Linked DNA regions of Homo sapiens: region 1 is linked to region 2. Evidence: fine-mapped expression QTL. A gene starts in region 2. The other region holds a variant in brackets. All regions are shown on one strand. Distances are between the middles of the regions. Region 1 has its middle 33 kb from the start of PARVG. Region 2 holds the start of PARVG (parvin gamma).

The links. PIP is the estimated chance that this variant, and not a neighbour inherited with it, causes the effect. A credible set is the group of variants that fine-mapping cannot tell apart.
Region 1: its variant is the best candidate, but not a certain one, in a credible set for the expression of PARVG in whole blood (TOPMed, PIP 0.55).

The regions. Positions count from the first base shown.
Region 1 is chr22:44,212,267-44,215,298 of GRCh38, reverse strand. No RefSeq gene overlaps it. Among named protein-coding and RNA genes, the nearest start is that of PARVG, 33 kb to the right of the region's middle. The variant GATA/A (reference allele first, on the strand shown) is at 1,389.
Region 2 is chr22:44,179,228-44,181,966 of GRCh38, reverse strand. PARVG (parvin gamma) reads right to left here and starts at 1,042. Exons shown (of 14, transcript NM_022141.7): 1 at 782-1,042; 2 at 50-225. RefSeq lists enhancers at 1-324, 325-1,055 and silencers at 432-561, 1,732-1,781.

The DNA.
Region 1 (3,032 bases), 33 kb before region 2:
AAAGAAGCAAATAAAACTTCTAGAAATGAAAAAAAAATATCTAATTGAAATAAAATGAATGATTAAATAGAGTTGATGCAGCTGTTTTAGTCAAGTGCTATAGTGTTTGTTCCACCGCTACTGTAACACACACCAAATGAGTAGGAGTTCAAATATTTCTTGCTCATATACTGTTCAAAACGAGTGTTCCTGACTGGCAGGCAGCTCTCCTCCCAGGGTGACTCCGTCTGTGGCTCCAGCATCTCAGCACACGGCTTGCAATCTCACCAGGCTAGTCAGCATCACCAGAGCATCGGGGAGTACAGGAGTATCAGGTCATGCAGGGGACTGGGTTTGAGGACCAGGCTCAGCAATGTTGTGTTTTACTTGATTCACATTTTATTATTGACCACGTTGGGTTGCAAAGAAGGTGGGGCATGCAGTCCAGCTGCGTGCCCAGCAGGAAGAGCAGATGGGCTTGGTAGGTGGCCAGGCCATCTGGGCCATGGCTGCTGAAGAAAGGTGGAGATCCCAGTCAGTGCTAGCCTTGGCCATTGTTTAGCTGATAGGACTTTTCAAAACCCTGCCCACCATTATTGCAGTTCATCCTTAAGATGGATTACCATCGTGGGGGTTGAACTAAGCAGGCAGGATCATTCCATTTTACAGATGAGGAAACTCAGGTTCAAAAAGGGGTAGTGACCTGTCCAAGACTACACAGCTGCTAAGGGGCCCAGTAAGACTGGAGCCAGGACTTCCCATATCACACTCCTGCCTCTTACTCCAGACAACCGGGTAAAGGAGAGGGATCATGGAGCCAGAGGTCCTCCATTTGTCCCTGTGTTTTCAGCTGAGCTGGTGAGCCTACTGGCCCAGCACAGGGGCCAAGAAGATGGGTTCAAGTCAGAGCTAAGCCCCGCTTGAATGCTGGCATCCTGGGATGCTGGGGTGGCCAGCTGGGTGGGCTGCAAGTTGAAGCAGCAGGTCTGGATCTGACTCACCCAGGAGAGTTAAGAGGTCACGTTAGTGGGTCAGTCCACAAGTATTTACCCAGGGCTAGGTGCTGCTGTGGGTCTCCAACAAGCAAAGCCTAGAAGCAGGGACACAAAATCCAGGTAGGACTCACCTGATGAGCTGGCCTTTTAGTGCCTAACTCTGAGTGCCAAAGGCGTGCCAGGCCTCTAACCTCACGTACCTCATGTCACTGCATCCTCACTAGGACCTATGGAGGAGGGACTTCCAGCACTGTTTTTGTGCCTGTAGTGATGATGATGATAATGATGATGATGATGATGATGTGATGGTGATGATAGTGACAGCAGTGGTGATGATGGTGACAATGATGGTGATGGTGACAATGATGATGGTAGTGATGATGGTGATGATAGTGATGATGATGTGATGGTGAT[GATA/A]GTAACAGTGATGGTGATGATGGTGACAGTGGTGTGATGGTGGTGATGATGGTCATAATGATGGTGATGACGATCTGATGATGATGATGGTGACAGTGGTGGTGATGATGGTGATGTTGATGATGTGGAGGTGATGATGATGATGATGGAGGTGATGATGATGTGATGGTGATGATGGTGACAGTGGTGGTGATGATGGTGATGTTGATGATGATGGTGGTGATGATGTCATGGTGATGATGGTGACAGTGGAGGTGACGATGAGGATGATGGTGATGATGATGATGTGATGGTGATGATGGTGACAGTGGAGGTGATGATGGTGATAATGATGGAGGTGATGATGATGTGATGGTGATGATGGTGACAGTGGAGGTGATGAGGATGATAATGGTGATGATGATGCCGTGATGGTGATGATGGTGACAGTGGTGGTGATGATGGTGATAATGATGGAGGTGATGATGATGTGATAGTGATGATGGTGACAGTGGTGGTGATGGTGATGATGACACCCATGATGTCATCTGACATTTATTGAATGTTATGTGTCCAGCAAGCTTCAAGCTCTCCAGATACTCAACTTTTTAAATAGCCCTGTGAAGAATAGATTCCTTATTGCCTCCATTTGACATAGAAGGAAACTGAGGCTTAGGGAGGTAAGTGATTTGCCTGGGGTCACAGAGTGAGGTGAGGATTTGCCCAGGATTCACACCCCAGGGTCTGACTCAAGCATCACACTCTAACCACTGCACTACCCAGCCCCTTCCACCCTGGGCTACACCTCCTCTGGGATAGAGCCTCGGTCTGAGCACTCTCTTTATACCCAGCTCTGTGCCCTGGGCCTGCACACAGTAGGTGGAGAAGTTCTCTTATGAATGGTGTGTGCACTATGATTTTGTACCTTTGTAAAAACCCACCTAGGTATTAATGCATCACCTTTCTAGGTAATAATAAACCAACCCATATGAAATGCTTGTGGATAAATAAATGAATTCATGCAATTGTTGGCCAGCCCAGGTCCATTGGCTGACTCTTCTTGGAAGAATCATTTCTGGAACATCTTCATCATCTACTTTCTTACCAGCCAGGCCCCTCAGCCCAGTCCCCCATTGACCTAGGGGCCCAGGACACTCCCTGGGCTACACCCCCAGGGGGTGGGGATCCCATGTGTCTCTAGGTCCATGATGCCCCTCTGCTCACCACTGCCCAAGTCTTACAAGGAAAGAAGGCTGGTGGGGCAGGGATGGGGGTTGGGATGGCACTGGCAGCTTTGATCCATTGCCAGAAGATATGGGGGCAGGAACACACTTTTCTCTAGACAAGCTGTTCGCTTACCAGCTGACTTTGGTAAAAAGAAAAAAAAAAATCTTAGTTCCATCTGTTCCCAGAGTGGAGCTGGTGTGAGTCCTGGGGCTTCCTGCAGCTCAGGCGGCCAGACCCAGTTTCAGACTCCAAGACAGCTGCCCTCTGGATTATTTTGGGAAGCAGCTCAACTCCGAGGCACCCCAGCCTTCGAGGCATTTCCCTTCGCTTCGAAGCTGTTTGCACACCCAGCCCAAGCTGCCAGCTCCTTCTCTGGCCCTGGACGCCTTCCTGTTCAGCTTGCTATAATTATCCTGCTTCCAACTTCGGCTGCAA
Region 2 (2,739 bases):
TCCGTGACCCCCAACACTCAAGTATGGTGGCCCCGATGCCAGAACTCACCCAACCGCTTTCCACGCAGGAAAACAAAGGCCTACTGAGTGCAAAGGGTGGTCCCTGGATTCCGAATGGAAGCAAGTTCCGGGTTCTTCTGGGGTCTTCGGGGACCAGGCCGGGAGGCAGGAGCCCCGCTGCTCACTTCCTCCAGGCCCGCTCAGCCGGCAGGAGCTTCCTCCTCTCTGCGGCAGGGCCCGAGGGGGGTGGATGCCGTGAAAGTGAAGCTGCCACAAACCTCCAGAAAGCTCTGCCCGGAGCCCCAGCGCCCGCCGTGCCGCCTGGGCCCCCGGGGTTCTGCAGGCCACTTAAACTCAATGCTTTCATTTCTCCCCCTCTCCCCGCCTTCCCCAAACCATGCCAGTTTCCCCGCAGGCTGTTCACCTCCAAAATGGCAGCTACATAGGCCAGAGCCTGGGGTCGACCCCCGCAACCCACCACCAGCACCCTGTCAGCCTGGCCTCCACCCTCCATCCCGCACCGCCGTCCTCCCACCTCCACACCCCGCCCCGGGCCAGGCCCCTTCCTCTCCCGGGACCACGCAGGAGACTCCTACCTGGACTCTCGGCTGCAGACTTCCCCACGCCCCCTGCCCGCCCCTGAGCTGAGGCTCCCACAAGCCCTCGGAGGAGTGAGTCACTTCCTGACCCCACTCACTCAAACCCACCAACGGCACCCAATAGCTCTTAAAATAAAATCCAGGCTGTGCGTGGTCTGTCTCTCTCAATCGCGGTTACATACCCGTGTCTAGAACAATGCTTGGCACAAAGTGGGCTCAGTGAATAAATATTGGTGGTGGTTGTTGCCAAGGGGATCGGGAAGGCTTTCCAGAGGAGAATGGGGCCTTGACGGCTGCATAGGAGTTTGCAGTGGAAGAAGAAGGGGTGAGAACGTGGCAGGTGGAGAAAACAGCGTATGCAAAGGCATAGCAGGGTTCGAGAAGGAGAGATCTCAGCACAGTAGATAGAGAAACACTTCAGACCCGAGCTGGTCTCTCAAGCTGGAATCTTCACCATCCGGGCTGAAATGGTGAGTTTCCCTAGCAACAGGTGACTGGGAAGCTATCTACCCTTTCTGACAGGTTAGGCAGAAAGTGGCTAAATCAGGTGGGATGCAGGTGTAAGGAGTGTGTGAGAGCAGGAAAGTAGGGTCGTTTACAAGAAGTTAATAAAAAATGACAAAACTTAGTACTGGTATTGTTGCTAATATTTATGGAGTCATTGGTGATGAAACAAACATAATTTTAAGGGCTTTCATTTTACTGGAAACTTCCTTGTGAGGTAGGTACAATCATCACCCCCATATTACAGAGGAAGACACTGAGGCACATGAGTCAGTCCCTGCCATTCTGAAGTGCCCGTGCTAGACTGGGGCTTGTAACAGGTGGGGAGAGAAGCCACCGTGCAGGACCTATTTTGCTGGGGCGTGTGTAGCAGGCTCAGCCCAGCTCTGGACACAGTGGTTCTGGTGGTGGCTTCTGACTCTGGATCACAGCCACATAGATGTAGCAGCAGTCACAGTCCCAGCAGCAAAGAGACGGTATATTCCCATGTGCTAACTGAAGACTGTTTAATAAAGGGACAGCTGGGGCAGGGTTAAAGGAACCCAGAAGAGACAGTGCTACACCCCAGGCTAGCAACATGGGGAGCTGTTACTTCTTCAAAACCTAGAGGGTGAAGGAGGGAGTGGGTGGCAGAGCCCAGGAACAGAATCACTGAAGCTCTAAGAGGGGCCTCGGGATAGGAGCTGTGGCCTTTGGTAGAGGGACACAGCCAGCTCATGGTGAACCAGCAGAAGGGCACAGCTGGAGGAATCAATGACCAAGCCTCACTCTCCTCCCTCCTGCCAGGGCCTCCCCTGCCCACATCCAGCCAGAAGCCAGAGAAAAGAAGTCCCCTGCTGCGGCCCATAGATGTGAGGAGAGAAAATGGTGGGGAGTGGATCTGCAGAGGTGAACCTAAAGCATTCAACCCAGAAAGCATGCTTCTAGGGCCAGCCTGACTCGGCAGCTTCCTTCAGGAGCCAGCTCTGCAGTATTCTTCCAAGAGTCCTTGCTGGAGGCGCTGCCTCCAGCCTTCCAACAGCTTGAGAATCACACAGCTTCCTATGTTAGATTCCTTTCTCCTCCAAACAACTGAAGAGACTCTAATCATCGGCAACTGAATCCCAATTAACTTCGGATTTGTTACCAGAAACAATTGCAGGCAACACGACCTCCAGGATGGGAACTGGGATTGGTTACTTGTTCTGGTTGATTTAAAGGCAGTGGGGACCTAGTAACTGTTAGAGAATGGAGTTCTAATAGATCGTAGCCTGTGATGGCAAAATAATTACCTGTCATCACTCAGAACGAAGTACCTATTAAATTGTGGCTTTGGCAGAGTTGTGGCTTCCATACGCAATACGAGCACAGGTTATCTAAGGACTGTGGGGTGAGCTTGTTATCATCACACCAAAGAGTTTAAAGCAAGAAAAGGACAGTCCCAGGGCTTTACATTCTCAGCTCAAGGTATGTGCAGAATACAGGGAGTTCTCTGATAGCCCTCAAAGCTATCTCTCATCTCTTGGGGCTGCAGGGCTGATGTAAGAATCAGATGCGAAATCTAATCCTGTATGGTGTGGAGTTACAACAGACTAAATCCACAACTCACAAAGCCTCTTGTGTGTAGAGCATTGTTTAGGGGAAGAGAGGGACTCTA